4 separate regions of the Homo sapiens genome follow, and regions 1, 3 and 4 are each linked to region 2. Evidence: fine-mapped expression QTL. A gene starts in region 2. Each other region holds a variant in brackets. All regions are shown on one strand. Distances are between the middles of the regions.

Evidence for each region. PIP is the estimated chance that this variant, and not a neighbour inherited with it, causes the effect.
Region 1: its variant is fine-mapped to the expression of TM2D3 in unexposed skin (GTEx, PIP 0.96).
Region 3: its variant is fine-mapped to the expression of TM2D3 in cerebellum (GTEx, PIP above 0.99). The same link has a PIP of 0.9 or more in pancreas and prefrontal cortex.
Region 4: its variant is fine-mapped to the expression of TM2D3 in whole blood (INTERVAL, PIP 0.94).

What each region holds. Positions count from the first base shown.
Region 1 is chr15:101,682,723-101,687,875 of GRCh38, reverse strand. TARS3 (threonyl-tRNA synthetase 3) reads left to right here. Exons shown (of 19, transcript NM_152334.3): 11 at 1,814-1,980; 12 at 3,639-3,801. It overlaps LOC124903609 (small nucleolar RNA U13), which reads right to left and starts at 4,361; the gene lies at 4,260-4,361. The variant T/C (reference allele first, on the strand shown) is at 2,663.
Region 2 is chr15:101,650,157-101,655,309 of GRCh38, reverse strand. It overlaps TM2D3 (TM2 domain containing 3), which reads left to right and starts at 2,929. Exons shown (of 6, transcript NM_078474.3): 1 at 2,929-3,039; 2 at 3,537-3,614; 3 at 5,149-5,153. The coding sequence starts at 2,949. It overlaps TARS3 (threonyl-tRNA synthetase 3), which reads left to right. Exons shown (of 19, transcript NM_152334.3): 19 at 580-1,714. The coding sequence ends at 728. RefSeq lists enhancers at 1,635-2,525, 2,632-2,691 and silencers at 2,352-2,541, 2,782-3,341.
Region 3 is chr15:101,688,816-101,693,968 of GRCh38, reverse strand. The region is part of intron 10 of TARS3 (threonyl-tRNA synthetase 3); the gene reads left to right. Among named protein-coding and RNA genes, the nearest start is that of TARS3, 33 kb to the left of the region's middle. The variant T/C (reference allele first, on the strand shown) is at 2,167.
Region 4 is chr15:101,790,990-101,796,142 of GRCh38, reverse strand. No RefSeq gene overlaps it. Among named protein-coding and RNA genes, the nearest start is that of OR4F6, 9.9 kb to the left of the region's middle. The variant A/G (reference allele first, on the strand shown) is at 2,952.

The DNA.
Region 1 (5,153 bases), 33 kb before region 2:
ACCTCAGATGGCAGAAAGAGGACCAGAGAGCTCTCTGCGAATCCTTTTATAAGGACACTAATCTCATTCATGAGGGCTCTACCCTTATGACCTAATCACTTGTCAGAGGCCCTACTTCCTAATACCATCACCTTGGGGTTAAGGTATCAATATCACAATTTTGGGGGAGACACATTCAGTCCATTGCAGGGATAGTTTAAAATCATTTCTAAACATCTCAAGAAGACATACATTCCTAACATGGTTGCATTCAGAGTGAATTAAAAATGCATTGAGCAGTATCTCCTGAGCTAGACTTTAAAAGTAGTTTTTAGTAAAAGCGAACACGCACACCCTGCCACACACACACCCACACACTCACCCTTAATTTCTGGGACCTTGTTTAATCTGAATATATGGAACCATCTGAAATAGCCAATAATCACTGCCATTCTTAATGACATCATTTTGTTAAACATTTTCTTTCTTTTTTTGAGATGGAGTCTAGCTTTGTTGCCCAGGCTGGAGTGCAATGGCGTGACCTTGGCTCACTGCAACCTCTGCCTCCTGGGTTCAAGCGATTCTCCTGCTTCAGCCTCCTGAGTAGCTGGGATTACAGGTGTGTGCCACCACGCCTGGCTAATTTTTGTATTTTTAGTGGAGATGGGGTTTCATCATGTTAGCCAGGCTGGTCTCAAACTCCTGACCTCAGGTGATGCACTTACCTTGGCCTCCCAAAGTGCTGGGATTACAGGCGTGAGCCACCACACCCTACCTGTTAAGGTTTTCTAATTTAGTAAAAACAAAGGATAGGTAAAGCAGCTCACTGAATGGCCGAGACCTAAGCTGTCTACCGTGGACTGCCAGGATGCCCTGCTGAAGAATAACAGACAACATTCCTTTCAGTTGTATAAAACCATTGTTAGTAATCTTAAAATGTTATGTTTTATGTTTTTTTAGCTGTGAAAACAGTTTTTCAAATGTGCTCAAAGTATACATGGCATTCTAGATTTGGGCCAGATGTCCATTAAGTGGTTTACAAATGTTGAGAATCTAAGGATTCTCAGAATTCTTACTTATTCAGCTTTTTGTGTTCATCCAAATTAAAACTGTCATGCAAAGGGTCCCTATCAAATTACTGTCAAAACAATTTGACCTAATTGACATTTGTAAAACAACAGCAGAATATGCATTTTTGGAAAGTGCACATAAAATATTTACCCAACAAAGATCACCTAATTGTTTTGTTTTTAAAGAAAGTTTAAATAAAGTTAAAACTTTGCTTGGAAAAAAACTCTCTTCTCCTGTCTCCAGTAATTCAATTAGGGAAGCTGTTAATAGGTAGGGAGGGAGAGAGGCCAGCTCATGACTTAATAATTTCAACTACTTAAATCGTTATACACTAAAATTCTTATTTCTGTTTAAAACTAAATAAATCAAAATTATAACATGCAACATGGCATTCAGGCTTATTAAATTATAAATTTTTTCTGCCTCTTAATAGGAAAAAACCTGTTTAGAAGGACTTTGGAGTAGTTACAGTGAGTTTCTATATATATTGTATTTCAATTACTACTTTTCAAAGAACTAAAACATTATATACTATATACTGTTATATGCTATAAAATAAATATACTCAATAGAAATTATACTAAGCATATGTAAATCTTTCTTCCAAGATCCAGAAACCACCACACCTAAAACTGAGGGTACATTAATCATGAATTAATATAGGACATGAGCCCAATTTGAAAATATTTGCTCATAGTGTTACTTTGCATGGAATTGTGATCTGCCCTAGCAGATTTTAATGTTGAATGCATGTATCTTGAAGGAGGAATATCACAAACGGGACTTCACGGAGGTGCTCTCTCCCAATATGTACAACAGTAAACTCTGGGAAGCCTCAGGCCACTGGCAGCATTACAGCGAGAACATGTTTACCTTTGAGATTGAAAAGGACACTTTTGCCCTCAAACCCATGAATTGTCCAGGGCACTGGTGAGTATTAAAAGCGAAGCAGACCTTTTCATGAGAGCACATAGCACGCTTCGTCACAATTATCTTTTAATGCTTTGTGGAATGAAAGAGTCCCTTTAATCTGAAGAGTGGTGATTACTAATTTTTACTAAGTTGTTTCATTCCGGAGAATGGATTTACTTTTGAAAATATATTTGATCTTTGGCAGGTATGGGATGTTAGCTGGTAACCATTGCATTTTTTTGTGCTGATTAAAGGATAATGTTATGTGTCAATTTTATAAGTTTTATAATATTTGTCTTTCTTATAGTAATGCACTTCACATGTTCATATTTGCAGAATATTTAGTTCTTTCATACTGTTTGGGTGGATTATAACAAGATCAATGAGGTCATAATCAATGGGTTTCTGGATTTCACTGATTCCAAGATACCATTTTTCTTCCACATTTCAACATTTCTGAAGTTGAAATGCATCTTATAGTTGGTGGCATCTTAGCATTATATCATAATTTAATTAATAGGTTATTTTCTTTCTTTGTAGCACATAAAATGAAGATACATTTTACAATCAATGCTGTCTTTGATTCTATGAAAGACTAATTATCATAAAGTTGGTATGCAAATTCAACCTTGTAAGACAAACATATTGTACAACTGAAACTGAATAGGCATAATTGTCCACAAAAAACAATCCCAACAAT[T/C]GTAGTTTTTGTATTATCAACATACATAGTTTCAAGTAAATTTACCTAGAAGATAATTATTAAAACCGGTAACTGAACACTGAAGAAAGCTCTTTGCCCTTTTAAGTGAAGATGAGAAGAAATTTAACTTTATGATGATGTCATGTAAAAAATATATATAACTTTAATTTTAGGAACACCGGTATGTAAACATTCTGTATCCTCTCTTTCTAAACAGAAGGTAGAAGCTATGCTAGTGTTTTGCATTGTAAAACACTTGTGTTAACAATTTCTTAACTCATCTTCTCAAAGGCATCCTTTAAAATTATAGCCTCGTACTTTATAATGAAAGTAGAGAATTTAAGTTTGTCTTTTTACACCTCAGAATAAGAAAGCAAGACCACGGTGGCTTAGAGGCAATGGGATATGGAAGCTAGGAGTGCTTTCTGCAGGAGAGAAGTCTTTCATTCAACAGAGAACATAGTTGAGTGCTTTTTGTGCTTGGAGCTAGAAGTGCAGAGGTGATTAAGACACAAACCATTCCCTCATGGAACTCATGAGCAGAGTGGGCAGGGCCATGCATGTAGACAATCTGTTATAAAAAGACCAGTGCCATAATGATGGCATGTTTGAGGTGTTCCAGGAACGTGAGGAGAAACTGCCTAGCCCTGTCTGGGAAATGTCTAGGAGGGCTTCATTTAAGAAGTAGCCTTTGAAATGAATCATAAACAGTAAATGGTGATTCACTGTGTGGATAAGGGGAGGGAACAGCATTTCTGGGAAGAGATAATAGACAAGCATCTTTCTCAGAGTGCTGCAGTGATGTAAATGCAAGGTTCACTAATTTGTGGAAGAATTTTTTTTTTAACCTGGTGATCTAAGAACTAGAATAAGGAGTTTATGAATCTTGAGGCTTAATTGTAATTTCTTTATATTTAGATAATTATTTAATATTTCTGTGCTGTGTAAAAGCTGTGTGTTACCACATCTTTTCTAGTCTAATGTTTGCCCATCGTCCACGATCTTGGAGGGAAATGCCTATTAGATTTGCTGATTTTGGAGTTCTGCATAGAAATGAACTGTCGGGGACTCTCAGCGGCTTGACCAGAGTGAGGCGCTTCCAGCAGGACGATGCTCACATTTTTTGCACAGTGGAGCAGGTAAACAATAACACAGAGTGAAGCAGTGTGGTCACAAATTGAGTGTGATGCCCCGCACACATCTTGTATTCTTTCAGAGTTACTGAAACATAGACGTTTGGTCTAGTCTCTGAGATTCATTCAGCTCTAACCTGCTGTGATTCTCTAAATTAGGTCAATAGATTAATCATCTCTTGACATGAAATATATTCCTTCAGTGATTTTATTAACCTAAATTCCATTAAGTGGAGTATTTTAAGGGATTTGGTGGAATTCTGGATGTTTTGTTTTTCAGTATCGCCTAGAACTTAAAATTTACTTTTTCAAGTTTTTGTGTTAATTCAAGTTAAAATTGCCATGCAAAGTTTCACTGTCAAACAATTTGACCTAATTGATGTTTATATAACAACAGCAGAATATACATTCTTTGGTTTCATGTTGGATGGGTAATGTGCCAGTGTTGTATCCAATGTGCTTCATGTGGGGTGGGTAATATGCCAATGTTGTACCGAGGTGTGAGGGAGGTACATCTTACACATGTGTGTACACCCAGTCATCACGCTTATGAACTACAAAAAGCTCAGAGTATTTGTTCTTTGAAATTGCACGTAGAATATTTACTAAAATAGACCATATTCTGGACCATAAAACAAGTCTCAGTGAGTTGAAAGGGATGCAATTAAAATAAAATGTTTAATTAACCCTAATGTTTAACCCTAATCCTAACTGACCACAATAGAATTAAAAATAGATAACACAAAATCCAAAGGAAAATTAGACAATTTTATATAACAAATGAAATAAAAACACATCAAAATTTGTAGGATGCGATTTAAGTGGTAGAGGGATGTTTATAGCACTGAATACCTGCATTAGAAAAGAAAAATCAATGACTTAGCTTTTACTTAAGATAGAAAAAGAAGAACAAATTACACCCAATGTAATGGAAGCAAAAGAAAGAAAATAAGAAAGAGCAGAGCAGAAATCACTGAAATAGAAAATAAAGAGTAAAAATAAAACAAAAGCTGGTTCTCTGAGAAGATCAATAAAATTGATAAACCTTTAGTCAGACTGATGAGGGAAAAAAGACAAATAAAAATGTCAGGAATGAGACAGATGTCATCACTACAGATTCTGTAGCTGTTAAAAAGATAAGGCAGTTTTATGAATAACTTTATGCTCATACATTTGACAGCTTAGATGAAATGGATAAATCTTTGAAAGACAAAACTATTAAACTTTACTCAAGAAGAAGTAGATCATCTGAATAGCCCTGTGTCTACTACAGAAATTGAATTGATAGTTAAAAACCTTCCTACACAGAAAACTCCAGGCCAAGATGGTTTTACTGGTGAATTCTACCAAACATTAAA
Region 2 (5,153 bases):
CTCATCTGCGCCCTAGTGCCAGGTGGAGTCACTGTGAGCCTGTAAGAGCTCCCCCCTCTCATTTGCACCCTAGTGCCAGGTGGGGTCAGTGTGAGCCTGTAAGAGCTCCCCGCTCTCATTTGCGCCCTAGTGCCAGGTGGAGTCAGTGTGAGCCTGTAAGAGCTCCCCGCTCTCATTTGCACCCTAGTGCCAGGTGGGGTCAGTGTGAGCCTGTAAGAGCTCCCCGCTCTCATTTGCGCCCTAGTGCCAGGTGGGGTCACTGTGAGCCTGTAAGAGCTCCCCGCTCTCATTTGCGCCCTAGTGCCAGGTGCAGTCAGTGTGAGTCTGTAAGAGCTCCCCCCTCTCATCTGCACCCCAGGACCACAAGAGCTGTTCTCTCAGGTGGACAATAGAGAGATGGGATCAGAAGTCATTGCTTCCCTCAAGAAACTTAACTATCAGAGGATGAACCAAATGCTCATTAGATGATATTTAATATTAGTGAAGAAAAACTTGATAAAAACATGTCATGGGACTGCTGACTTAATGTTTGGTAAATTGCTGATTTAAAATACATTTCTTTACCTTTCTTTTCTGCAGTGGTTGGAGAAAAGGAAAAGATAGATAATGCTGTAAACGTGCGAACAAGAGACAACAAAATTCATGGAGAGATTTTAGTAACTTCTGCCATTGATAAACTGAAGAATCTCAGGAAGACACGGACACTCAATGCTGAGGAGGCCTTTTGAAGTCCTTCCCTGATATTTGCTTCTGTGTAACTTTGTTTTGACCCTTAAAAATGTATTTTTCTTAACATGTTAGTACTTCTACGACTTTGGAGCCACTGATGGGTCCACTCATGGCCTCAGCTGAGAAAGGAGACGATGAACGTGTAGCTGACATGCACGAAGTTTAATTTACTCATGTCCACGGGGGACGTTTAGAGGGCACGTGGGAAATTTTCCAGCAATCAATGCCTTGAGAAACTTAAATGGGGAAATATTATTCATCGAGAAAGTGAAACAAAACACTAGGAAATGATTATGAAATGTTAGTGATTTTCAAAAGATGGGCTTCAAATAAAAGTCTGCAGAGTTTTTTTTAAATAGGAGGGAAAATCTTATTTTCTAATATGTCTCAGGTATTTTTATGACTTCTACTAAAATTCACACTGAAACTTTATCTTCTAAACTGGAATCATTACTTAATTTTAACTAACCAACAACCACAAAAGCAGCAGCTACTGCTAAATATTGGATTACTGACAAAGGAATTCAGTTTTGTGGAATCTGGTGTTTGCACTATAGGTTAAGAGTTGCCATTTAAATGTTTCTTATTCATAATTAGGTTTTGTTCCGCTTTAGAAAAAAATAAATTCCCAAATGAATTGCATCAGTGTTTCCAGCGTTTCAGCTGTGGGCTTCTACCACCACTAAGCCGCTCACCTAGAGTTGTTACTTTTTTGATGGGATGACATTCCATGGATTTATGTACTGAAATGGATTTCAGATTTTAAAGAGAGGAATGCTCTACGTGCTCAGAACTGAATTAAAATGGCATTATGTCAATAGAGAATTCAGCTACCAAACAAGAAGTATTGTTTATTTTGCGATATGCTGTGAAATTCAAAAGAAATGTAAGAAATAATCTCTTTTCAATATACTGATCATTTAGTTAACTTCCTGAGGGATGTGAACAGTGAAACAGTTGGCAAACAAAACAATATATATCAGGCTTGTGTAGTAGTATAAGGTGCAGATTGTGTGATATGATTTTTATTATTTATTTTTTGAGACGGAGTCTCGCTCTGTCACCCAGGCTGGAGTGCAGTGGCGCGATCTCGGCTCACTACAACCTCCGCTTCCCGGGTTTAGGCGATTCTCCTGCCTCAGCTTCCCCAGTAGCTGGGACCACAGGCGCGTGCCTCCACGCCTGGCTAATTTTTTTGTATTTTTAGTAGAGACAGGGTTTCACCGTGTTGTTAGCCAGGATGGTTTCGATTTCCTAACCTCGTGATCCGCCCGCCTGGGCCTCCCAAAGTGCTGGGATTACAGACGTGATTCACCGCCCCCGGCCGTGATACGATTTTTAAAGCTAACATTCAGGGCTTATGTGCCGGCACTTTTCCATGTATTTTTTAAAAAGTCATTCAGCAAACATGCACGTGAGGGGGTGGTAGTCAGAAGACCGCGGAATGAACGATCCCGAAGCACGTGGGTGGGAGGAGAGCACCTGTCACCAGCGCTTTCTCCCAGGTGTGCTGTGACAGAAACCGGCAAGGGTCTCCGCAAGCTGGGGCCTGAGCGCGGCTCCCCAGACGGCCGCGACCTTCCCCAGGCAGGGCTGGGCTCTGGACCCTCCCCTCACTTCCCAGCGCCTCGGGCCATCCTGCTTCTCCAGGCCTGAGAGGAACTTTCTGGAAGTGCTGCGTATCTTCAAGAGGCCGGCCAGAAGTGAAAGCCGCGGCAGGCCTGAGCGCCGGCCCCAGGGGAGGGGTCCCTCGGGCCCTCGTCGTCCCGGGGCCGCTTCCCCGACTGTAAATAAGTGTCTTTAGGATGAAACGCCACGCGATAGTGTCCTCGGAACCTTCGCACGAGATCCAGCACACAACATCCGACCACACACTGGGGCGGCCAGCCTCCCGCGTTCGCCCGCCTCTGCTCTTGGTTGCTTCGGGCGCGCATTTCGGTCCACGGATGACCTTTAACAGGTCTCCTGCAGTGGAACCAGGGGTGAGGGCCTCGTCCAAGGGCGTGAGGGGCGCGTGGAAATGGAACAACCTCCCAGGCTCGCATCCTCCTCGGGGACCTCCCAGAAGGCTCAACCGGAAGAAAACCCGCGACCCGCGCGAGGACAGCGAAAGCGCAAACGCCGGCCGCCAGGAGTCGCAGCGCGCCTGCGTCCAGTTCACGCTCCGGCTCCCAGGCGCGCCCCGCCCCCCGGCCCGGAAGTGCGCAGGCGCTGGCAAGATGGCGGGAGGGGTGCTCCCGCTGAGGGGCCTCCGCGCCTTGTGTCGCGTGCTGCTCTTCCTCTCGCAGTTCTGCATTCTGTCGGGCGGTGGTGAGTCAAAGGCTGGGTTCAGCGCCGGGTGGGGCTGAGTGGCAGCAGGGCCCCGGGAGCTGCGAGGAGGCCGGGCCCACGGGCGGACGCTGACGCGGGGAGGAGGCCGAGTGCCGGGCTCCGGGCCGCTTGTCGCTGCATCTGGAGTCTGGCGCCCTGGCCGCCCGGCCCGAGGCCGCCCCTCCGCTCCGGCGACACCGAGCCCGCCATCGCGGCTGCGGAGCCCTGGCACGGAGATGGAGCGCTTGGGGGCTGGGCCGGGGAGGCGGAACTGGAGCGCGATGTCATCCTTCGGTCCCTCGTTGCCGGCTGACCTGAACTGATGTCTACTCTGTTGACGTTTCGTCCCTAAGCTTTGTGTTTTCTGGCTGACCAGCCGTGAGGTTTTCATGAGCAGCTTATTGGCCTGGTGTAGACCCGCCGTGTTAACCACACAAAATAAGGTTTTCTTGTCCCGGGATAACGTGTTTCTCTAATTGTACGATCCTTAAATTTAGAGCAATCGCAGGCGCTGGCTCAGTCAATAAAGGATCCGGGCCCAACACGCACATTCACAGTAGTTCCCAGGGCAGCAGGTACTAGACGTTTTCTATTCTAGTAAATACATGTAGTTATCTCTAGTAGTTTCTCTTTGTTTTTATAAAAATTCCCTTTAGTATACGAAGTCACTTTCCATTTTTGAATATTTATTGTATTTTAGATTATGTGAATTAAGGGTAGATACACAGCCATTTTCAGTAGATAGTCTTCGTATTTATACCTTTTGACGTTTCTGCCTCCTCTCTTTTTCCAATCCCACGCTCATTTGTCACCTTATTTCTATTATTTTTCCACTTCATCCATCAAAATAACCTTCAGTCCGTGCTTCTTTCCCTTCAGCAAATTTCCTCTACTGCTAAAACCCTGTTCCTGATGTTGGAATATTAAAGGCTCCCTCAGGACTGTGGAAATGGAAGGATTACAGCGGGACTGATGGAGACTTGAAATCTAGATCTGGTTTTGCTACTGGGATCTTGAACAAATTATTTATCCTCTTTGGACCTTGGTCCTCATCTTTAAAGCGGTGGGGTTGGTCTGACGACCTAAAGTCATTTCTGCTTTGTGATTCTAAGTGTCCACCTTCCAGCCACATAGTCACGGGATCAAAAAGAGTATTTTGTAGAATTGTTCCTTAATACAGTGAGTAAAGTAGGACCAGTTTTAAACAAGCATTAGTGTGTTTTGCTAGGTGGAGGCTCTGACTATAATTTCATCACTTTAAAGTGACATTACTTCAGTGAATTGAAACTGGCAGAGATATTTTACTGATTCTTATTTGGATGTAAAAAACAGCAGTGCACTTGAATTTTAAACTCAGATTACTTTTTAGAGAAAGCACAAGAGTTCTTAACTCTTGCAGGCTTTTGAAAGCCCTTCTTTTCAGGAATACTTGCAATTTTGATCCTTTCAGTTGGTAAAAATACATTGCACACTCATTAGGTTGGTTGGAAATAAGTTGCAGCTTACTGAAGATGTTATTAAAGTAGAGAACTGTTTTGAACTTTGGTAGCGTAAAACTGTAAATATTATATTAGCAAATGTGGCTTATCGAAGTACCAGTGTGAAATAATGACATTTTAAAGTTGATGCCCTGAGGATGTCAGTGGCTTCATTTCTGAATTAGTGAATTCAGATGAAAAGAACACGGGATTGGAAATGGAGAGATTTGGGTTCTAGTTCCAGTTTTGCCACAGACTTCCTCTGTGATTTTGCAAAACCCTACTGTAAGTTTTTTTTCAACTTACAAAATGATAGTCTTTTTTTTAAGCCCTTAATGTATACCCAGAATTTTCTATACATTATTTGTATATGAGCACCTTTAGTTTTCACGGCCACGTGGGAGGCAGGAATGAAGTAATGTTTTACAAGTGTGGTGCTCACCAGGTCCCACAGCTGGCCGTGGGCAGAATTCTGCTTTAATTGCAGGTGTCTCTGACTCCAGTCCCATGCTTCTTCCCTTCCAGTGCAGTGTCTACTTGCTAATGATCACGTCTCTTAACCTTAGAAGATTGTTCTCTGTTATTCGAATCAGTATTATAGGAGAATAAGCTTCTCTCTTGCCTCTCACAGAAAGT
Region 3 (5,153 bases), 39 kb before region 2:
TTATCACCTCAGCAATCAAGATACAGAACAGTTCCGTCACCCCTCAAAACTCCCTCATGCTACCCTTTTAAAATCAAATCCTCCCCAGCCCTGACCTCAGGGAACGGCTGATTTTTTCTCTACCCCTAAAATATTGGCATATAAATGGAATCATACTTTTATAAAACCTTTAGAGACTGACCGCTTTCACCCAGCATAACACCCTGGAGATGCATCCGAGTTGAGTGTCCCCAGCGGGCCTCTGCTTTTGTCCCTGGGCAGTATTCCATCATATGAACATACCACTGCTTCAGATCCATCCTGCAGTTGAGGGGCATTTGGGTTGTTTTCAGCTTTTGGCAGTTATGAAAACTGCTATTGTCATTCATGTACAGTTTTTTGTATGAACATAGGTTTTCATTTTACTAGAGTAAATACCTAGGAGTGTGATTTCAGGGTCATATGGTGATATGGTTTGGCTGTGTCCACACCCAAATCTCACCTTGAATTGTAGTAATCCCCAAGGGTCAGGGGTGGGGCCAGGCGGAGATAATTGAATCGTGGGGGTGGTTTCCCCCATACTGTTCTTGTGGTGGTGAATAAGTCTCTTGAGATCTGATGATTTTATAAAAGGGAGTTCCCCCGCACAAAGTCCCTTGCCTGCTGCCATTTAAGATGTGCCTTTGCTTCTCCTTTGCCTTCCACCGTGATTGTGAGGCCCCCCCACCAGCCATGCTGAACTGTGAGTCCATTAAACCTCTTTCCTTCATAAATTACCCAGTCTTGGGTTTGTCTTTATTAGCAGTGTGAGAATAGATATGGTAAATTTAAGTTTATAAGAAAATGCCAAACTATTTTCCAAAATGACTACTGTTTTGCATTCCCACCAGCTGTGCATGAGGGTTGCTTTTGTAAAGCTCATCTCAGTCACACCTTTTGCATTTCCTGGAATCTGCCTGACTTGTTGATGCATGTCTTGAAACCCTGGAGTGGGGAGGGGAGTGGCTTCTCTTGTTGTTATATTAATAACCCACTTGGGGAATTTTTGCTTCCTCTTCACACAACCTTAGATGGAGTGAATTTCTAGACCAAGCTTGTCTTTGTGAACATGGCAGGCCTCAAAACATTCAGCTCTTCTGCAGGGAGAGTCCTGAAAGATGCACTCCAAGGGTTTAACTGAAGAGAGTCTAGTGAAGGAAGTATTTATGGAGATATGGGCCTGGCTAAGGTAACTAACAAGGGATGATAGAGCGCCCAGGGATTACCAATAGCAAGAATCCCTTCCCCTCCATCACTAGGCCTGCAGAAGTGAGGAGATGGAGTAGTAATACTAGAACCCACAGAGAGCTTGGAGCCATGGAGGAGAGAAGTGAGGAGATGGAGTAGTAATACCAGAACCCACAGAGAGCTTGGAGCCATGGAGGAGAGAAGTGAGGAGATGGAGTAGTAATACCAGAACCCACAGAGAGCTTGGAGCCGTGGAGGAGAGAAGTGAGGAGATGGAGTAGTAATACCAGAACCCACAGAGAGCTTGGAGCCGTGGAGGAGAGAAGTGAGGAGATGGAGTAGTAATACCAGAACCCACAGAGAGCTTGGAGCCGTGGAGGAGAGAAGTGAGGAGATGGAGTAGTAATACCAGAACCCACAGAGAGCTTGGAGCCGTGGAGGAGAGAAGTGAGGAGATGGAGTAGTAATACCAGAACCCACAGAGAGCTTGGAGCCGTGGAGGAGAGGCCACACAACAGAAGCTGTAACTGTGGAACACAGCCAGAACCTGAGTAAACCCACAGCAGGGAGAACCAGGGAAAGAAATATCCAGACCTCTCTCTTCCACTACCCTGTGAATCCTTTGGAACTTCCCATTGGTCAGACCCAATCAGAAACCATATGGAAAGTATATTGGCATGTCAGGATTCTCCACAGAAACAGAACCAACAAGATACATAGAAAAGAAGAGATTTATTATGAGGAATTGGCTTGTGTGATTATGGAGGCCAAGAAATCCCATGATCTGAGGGTCCAAGAAAGTTGGAGATGTAATTCTCGCCTGAGTGCAGAGGCCTGAGAACCAGGGGAGCTGATGAATCTAAAAAAAGGAGAGAGCTCAGGTACATACACAGAGAATTAAACAGTGCTTACCATGGTCAGGGGTTGGGGGGAAGAAATGGGGGGATATAGATCAAAGGA[T/C]ACAAAATAGATATCTAGGATCAACAAGGCCAGAGATCTAATACAGAACATGAGGACTAAAGTTAACAAAATTATATTTATCAGGGAGTTTTGTTAAGTAATTAGATTTTAACTGCTCTTGTCACACACACAAAAAAGGTAACTCTTTTACTATTTGTGTCCTATAACATCATGTTGTGAATCTCAAATATGTGAAATAAAATTTATTGAAGAAAATTTAAAAGGCTGGGCATAGTGACTCACTCTTGTAATCCCAGCACTTTGGGAGGCTGAGAGGGGTGGATCGCTTGAAGCCAGGAGTTCGAGACCAGCCTGGCCAACATGGTGAAACCCTGTGTCTACTAAAAATACAAAAATTAGCCAGGCGTAGTGGTGCACATTTGTGATCTCAGCTACTTGGGAGGCTGAGGCAGGAGAATTGCTTGAACCCAGGAGGTAGAGGCTGCAGTGAGCCAAGATTGTGCCACTGCACTCCAGCCTGGGCAAGAGAGCAACACTCTGTTTCAAAAATATATATATATATATATAAATACTGAGGTAATAGTTCTAAGACTGATACCCATTGGCCGGGCGCAGTGGCTCATGCCTGTAATCCCAGCACTTTGGGAGGCTGAGGCGGGTGGATCATGAGGTCAGGAGATCAAGACCATCCTGGCTAATACGGTGAAACCCCATCTCTACTAAAAATGCAAAAAAATTAGCCAGGCGTGGTGGTGGGCGCCTGTAGTCCCAGCTACTCGGGAGGCTGAGGCAGGAGAATGGTGTGAACCCAGGAGACGAAGCTTGCAGTGAGCTGAGATCACGCCACTTCACTCCAGCCTGTGTGACAGAGCGAGACTCCATTTCAAAAAAAAAGATTGATACCCATTAAATAATTTTCATTGCTGAAGGAAATGTGAGGAAACAGTTATCATATACTTAGAGAGAAAGTTTAAATTGCTACTAATCTGGTAACAAATATTAATGTGAAAAAAATGCACACTCCTAGCAATATTCTTAGAAAGGAATCTAAAATATACAATTAAAATCACATAGAAAAAAACTTTACTGCAGAATAGTTTGTAGTATTCAAAAATGAAAAGTCTAATGTTTCTCAATAGTAGAAGGATTAAATACTTTGTGACATGTCCACACAATAAAGCACTATGCAGTTAGTACAAAAATACATCTATGCATACTAACTTGAAGGGGGTTCAGTATACCTCACCATTGAAAACTGGAAGTGACAGAGTAAATGTATAGTGTATCCTTTCTTTTTATAGGTAAAAGCAAAAAACAACAAAATCCTGTATGTGTGTTTTGTGTTTGCACAGTCATGGAGGAGAGGGTTGAAATACAGGAACAGCAGGCCATTAGCATTATCTCAGGGCAGTAAAGGGTGGAATGAGAGAAAATGTTCAGGTTTTCTTTATACACCTTATTTTTTTCCACATGAAACATAATTTAAGCATGTTGTATTATACTATTGTGTTTAAAAGTATATATTTTATAAAATAAAAAAATAATAATCACAGCAAGTAAGCCTTGTGCGGAGCCCACAGAAGTCAGCTTTGGGGAACACAGTGCAGGGCAGAGAAGGAAGGAAAATGGGCCAAGATGAGGCGAGACAGGCAGTGGCAAATGGAAAATAACCAGCCTGGCTCACCCCCTGTGCCTCTCAGCACATTCTTGCCTTTTGCTTGGAGGACACTGAGGACATTGGTTTCCTCCCACAAACTCCGATCAGCCGATGTGTCATCATGTGGTGATGTCATTTCAGTTTCACCTAAATCTGAATCGTGCCATTGGCCACCATGAGTGCCCTTCATGTAAGAATGCAAGGAAAAGTCATAACTAAATGTAACTGTTTCAGCCTCTGTAGATGGACGCTAGGGCCAAGCTGATACATCAGAGCCTTCTTTTCCCATCACTCATTCCACATTCGCCTTATCCTGGTGGCACCCCAGATGGGCATTGTTTTATTTGGTGGGTGCATTAGTTTCCTAGGGTATTATAACAAAATACCATAAACTAGGTGACTTAAAACAACAGAAATTTATTATCTCCCAGTTTTGGAGGCCAGAAGTGTGAAATCAAGGTGTTGACGAGGCTGTGTTCCCTCTAAAACCCATGGGGGAATCCTTCCTTGCCTTCTCCTAGCTACTGTTGGTTGCCAGTCATCTTTAGTGTTCCTTGGCTTGTTGAAGCGTCATTCCCATCCTCTGTCTTCACGTGATGTTCTCCCTGCGTGTCTTCACATTGTCTTCCCCTTGTGTGCATCTGTCTCTGTGTCCAGATTTCTCCTTTTTATAAAGAGACCAGCCATATAGTATTAGGATCTACCCTAATGATCTCATTTTAATTTGATTACCTCTATAAAGACCCTACTTCCAAATAAGGACACATTCTGAAGTACTAGGAGTTAGGACTTCAAAATATCTTATTTGGAGAATACAGTTAAACCAATAATAGTGGATGGCCTCAGTCTGTCCTTAGGATCCAAGGTTTTAGTAATGCTCTTTGTGGGGTTTCAGGGCTCCCACTGATGGTTGTTGCTAGATGTGTTGATATCAAAGGCTCCCCACTGAATTCCAGACACAGTCCTCCTTACTCCATTGTAAGCAATACGACTTCTCCCAGTAATTGCGATCAAGGGTAGTAAGTCTTTCCCCAAGTAATTGGGATCAAGGGTAGTAAGTCCTTTTCTGTCTATCAGTTCTATAGTAAAGGGAGCCCATAATGGGCAATGGACAATCTCAACTCCCAAGCATGTCTCAGTTTTTGGTGAAAACATACTTTGGGCACCAAAACATGTTATCGAAAGATTCCAAAGCTCCAAGGATAAAGAAAATATCCTGAATGTTTCCAGAGAGAAAAAAGCCACAGACATAGGACTGGGTATCTGAATGGCATTGAAATTTTCAGTGGAAACACTGAAAAACAGAAGACAGGAACAATGCCTTAGTAATGCGAAGCCTAGAAATCTATACCCAGTTAAAGTAGCTTGC
Region 4 (5,153 bases), 140 kb before region 2:
TTTTAATATTTTATTTTCTTTAATTAAAAATGACTATTATTCCCAATAAACCAACCACATTTTTTATCTTCATCAATTTTTGTGTTCTTTGCCTGAACGTAGAAGTTTACAGGCTGATCTCAACTTTTATGTTCAACTTGAAAAGAATAGTAGCCATAATAATAATTTTTCTTTTTAATTTTTGATTTTTTAACTAAAAATAATTTCCCATTACCAACAAAGAATTCTGAGTAGAATACAAAGACTTTTCACAGTTGGTTGTATGCCCTTTTGCTTGGAGGCAGGTTCAAATGTTAAATTACTATATTGATTATAGAGAAGAATAGATCTTGAAAGGCTGGCTCTCTGGGGCTATCCTATCAGAGCGTAATTAATTTATCCAGTCTGAGTTTGACAGATGCACAATGTCTAAGCAGAGAATTCCTTTAAAATTATGCTGTTTTATTCCTGGCAACTCATTTTGAGTTTCTCTGATGAGTCACTGAAGGAGACTTCCTTCACACATCTGCCTCCAGTGACTAAGTCAGCTGAAAATAAACATATGCAATACAATACCTCAAGCATCTGCATCAACTTCAGGACCCTATGTGGGGTCACAAATTATATTTTTAAATATATAAAATACATCATATTTAAGTTATGCTAAACAAATAACAATAATGTTTCCAGCTAATGAGAGTTAACCATGGTGCCCTAATGTCTGGCTTCAGTTGTCGGCTGCAGAGTGGAGATGGTCCTAGAGAGAAGGAACAAAGAAAATGCACATGTTTTGGGTGGGATGAAAGAAGAGTGGGAATAATTTCAATTATAAATATTCTTTTTTTTTAACTTCAGGTGACTATCCAGCAGGCAGTCAGGTATACATACCTGGGATTCATGGGTATTGTCAGAGCTGGAGATACAGATTTGAGAGTTGTAGGTGAGAGAAAAGATCACCTAATTAAAGTGTGAAGAGAGAGTTTAGATAAGATGAAAATCTGGGAACACTTTGCATTTAAGGGTTAAGCACAGTAGATTTAGAAAGGGAGACAGACAGAGAATGTTGAGTATGACTTGATCTAAGGGGAAAGCATCATTAGAACGAGAGACATTAAAGACTCAGGAGAGACAAATGACTGACAAAGTGCAAGAGGATTTGTGGGGGTGGGAAGGATTAAAAATATAATGGAGGCCAGGCAAGGTGGCTCATGCCTGTAATCCCAGTACTTTGGGAAGCCAAGGTGGGAGGATCACTTGAGGTCAGGAGTTTGAGACCAGCCTGGCCAACATGATGTCTCTACAAAAAAATACAAAAAATAGCTGGGCGTGATGGTGCACACCTGTAATCTCAGTTACCCAGGAAGCTGAAGCAGGAGAGTTGCTTGAAAAGGGAGGCAAAGGTTTCAGTGAGCTATAGATGATAGATAGATAGATAGATAGATAGATAGATAGATAGATAGATAGCATATATATATATATATATATGAGTTTGGAGGAGCTGATGGCTTTCGTGTCCAGTAACCTCACATTCCTGAAAGCATTAGTACAGGCGGCCATCTGTTGAACAAGAAAGGCAGGGGAGGGATGTGCAAAAAGGTAGCATAATGTCTCAGTTTCTGAGTAAAATGAACAGCTGACCAACTGCAAAGAAAACTATTCAGGTTCTCCCCTGGAACATCCAGATGATTTCACTCACCGCTATCATTTTCTCATTGCCAATATCCTGAAAACCCTACATTCTGCTCAGTTAACTTCATAAGCCCATGAATAGTCTTTCTCACTCCACATTATTCTGCTTCCATGGTCACCCCTCCCTATCTGAATCTCCTGGCTCACTCGACTCTTATGATTCCATTGAACTCACCCAGATAAGACAGGTTAATCCCTTCATGTCGAGCTCCTGAATTTAATCACATCTGCGGAGTACATCTGCAATGTAAGGCAACACAGTCACAGGTCTGGGAATGAGGGCTTGGGAGTCATCTCTGGGGAGGGGCATTTCCTACTCACCACAGTGGTTTTTAGTCTTCGAATGTAAACGTGAGGCCTGGGATAATCTGTCATCTTGTGACCAAGAGACAACAAACGGGAGAGAAAAACCGTTCCAAAATGCAAATACTAGCATGTACCTGGCCATGGAGCTATTACTAGTGGATGTATAACTGGGACTTCTTATATGACATAGGTAAACTCTCTATTGGTGAGCCTTCTTAAACTTGGGTTTTCTTTTTCTTGGAGCCATCCACAATAAGAAATGTATTTTATGTTATGACCAAATAGTGAGCCATAATCCTTATTTGAAAAACATTGTCCTAAGAATAAAGATTATTTAAGCTTTTTACTGTTTTTTTTTGTTTTCTGCACATTATACTGCATTTTATTTGAGCTATGTAAACAAGGCAATATTCCCATTTAAATCACTTGTTAAAAAGACTTCTCAGCACTGAACTCCATACAAATCTTAGCACCATCTAAGTCAGCTACTCTTTGCTAAAATCCCCCTACTGTTTGTATTGAAGATTCTGTTTCACTCTGCTTTTTCTACTCTGTAGTCTTTTTTTAATTATTATTTTTGTAGAGATGGGGGTCTGGGTTGCCCAGGCTGGTCTCAAACTCCTGATCTCAGGTGATCCTCCCAACAACACCTCCTAAAGCTCTGGGTTTACAGGCATGAACCACCATGCCTGGCCCACTTTGTATTCTTTCTGATGATTATCCTTCATCCTGCTGTCCTCTAACTGTAGCTCCCTCAAGGTATTTTACTTTTAAAATTTATGACCAGGACCTTTATTGAGAAATGCATTTTACATCACAAGTTACCACACACATAGGGGTAATGTTTGGTTTTCAGCTATATTTTCACAATTCGATTTTTCTCTGAAAAAATAACTGTTATGTGGATAAAACAACTAAATTCCTATCAGATGTCAGCCCCTTTGTGTGCTAGAGCCCACTGCCTTGCATCATCTGAG[A/G]ACTTATTTATTTTGGACAATTATCCAATCTCTTTCCTGCATCGTTAATTTCTTACCTTCTACAGGATTATGCCCTAAATTTCATTCTGTTACACTCATGGAAAGAAGAAGAAACTGGAGATGGAGGAGAGGGAGGAGGGGGAACTATGTCTGCAGCTCTACTCTAGTTCTCTGCTACCCTTAAAAGTAAAACTTCTAGAGAGAGCCATCTATAGTCGCATTCTCTACGTCATCACCTGGATTCTCTCCTAAGACCACCCTAACCGAGCTTCCGTTTTCACTGCCTTTATGAACGTTTGTTAAGCTACGTGCAGTGAAATCCAAAGGTCGCTCTTCTATTCTTGTCCGAAATGTCTTAGAAGTGTTCAGTGAAGTTTATCACTTGCTTCTATGATGAAGGCTTTCTTCTCCTGGTTTCAGAAACCCCATCGTCTCCTTGCATCTCCTTTGTCACTGAAACTCTCTTACTGTCTCCTCGGCTCAATCATGGTATGCCCCTGGGCCCTTTCCTGGTCCTGTACTCCTTTCTATATAGAGGTAAAGCATTTTTTTTTTTTTTTTTTTTTTTTTTGAGACGGAGTCTTGCTCTTTCGCCCAGGCTGGAGTGCAGTGGCGCGATCTCGGCTCACTGCAAGCTCCGCCTCCCGGGTTCACGCCATTCTCCTGCCTCAGCCTCCCAAGTAGCTGGGACTACAGGCGCCCGCCACTACGCCCGGCTAATTTTTTGTATTTTTAGTAGAGACGGGGTTTCACCGTTTTAGCCGGGATGGTCTCGATCTCCTGACCTCGTGATCCGCCCGCCTCGGCCTCCCAAAGTGCTGGGATTACAGGCGTGAGCCACCGCGCCCGGCCGGTAAAGCATTTTAAACCCATCTAATCCCTGGGCTTTAACCAGTATCTGTATAAATAGGACTTTCAATTCTATATGTCTCATTCTGAACTCTTTTGGACTATGATTTGTGTAATCACATACGGACTTGATATCTCCACATAATACAGAATATTGGAGGTACATATTGCCTAATGATGATCTTCTTTGTCCACTTCATTTCCTGAAACTGAAATGTAGAGAGGTTGAATAACTTAACCGGTTTCCTATTGCTAGTCAGAGGCACAGTAGATATGCCTTCAAAACAGCGCTATCAGCTACTCCTTAGTAGGACCAAAAAATTAAAAAGCACATAATGCATGTATTAAATACTAACAAGCAAGAGTGTAAGATTTCTTTCTGTTTGTTAGGAAGCTTCAGTGTCGGATAAAGCTGTGCTGGACAGACTCCTGTAAATTCAAGCCCTGTGGTGGGGCTCTTTATGTCCCATGCTGAGTATGGCAGCCGAGGCATAACTGCATTTCTTTTAAGCTTTCCCCCAAAATTCAATCTGATTTTTACATTTTTATCTTTTCTCTCCCTGCTGGTAGGTTTCACTGGACTGATATAGATTTACATATTCCCCAATCTGATTATATTCCAGTTTATTGATTAAAAATTCCCACTGTGATATTGTTATTACAAAGTGAGGCATAAGTTTTTAGTGAATTATCACTTTTGCAGATAGTGATCACTTGATGGGAGGCTCTCTTTCAATTACCCCATCAAATAGTTATTGTTTATTTAGAGCTTGCTGAGAGTCAGATCATTTACGTAAATTTCTAAATCCCCAAGACTCAAAGCTGATTTCCAAAAATATTTGACTTTAACAGTATAGTTTCTTCAACTGAACTGTCTTTATTTACAAGCCTTTTAAGGATCAAGAGGAATTGCAGGTTTTGACACTCAGCATGTGAAGGCTTATATTAACTATTAAAGAATGAATTTCCTACAGAATATTTTTTCTCAACTGGGTCTTCATGCAATAATGTTAATTATCAAGATAAACGATCCAAAATGAGATGAAAGCTAAACATCAAAATACTGAACAATTTCTCCATGATCATGGGGATGACTCCATTAAAGCAAATTGCAGCTAAATGCAGGGCAGCAAGAAGGGAAACAGGGCAACAAGGAGATACATTATCTGTATCAACAACAAAGCTCTAAAGCCAAAATATTTAAGAGAAGTACGAATGGTCCGGCTTTGGGAAATAAACCAAATGTCAACAGTTTGCTATCACAATGATCATGAATGCCAGGTACTTTGAATACTTAGCATTTTGCATGCCAGATAGTTTACTGGGCAACACCGGTTACAGCAGTGTAGGCTG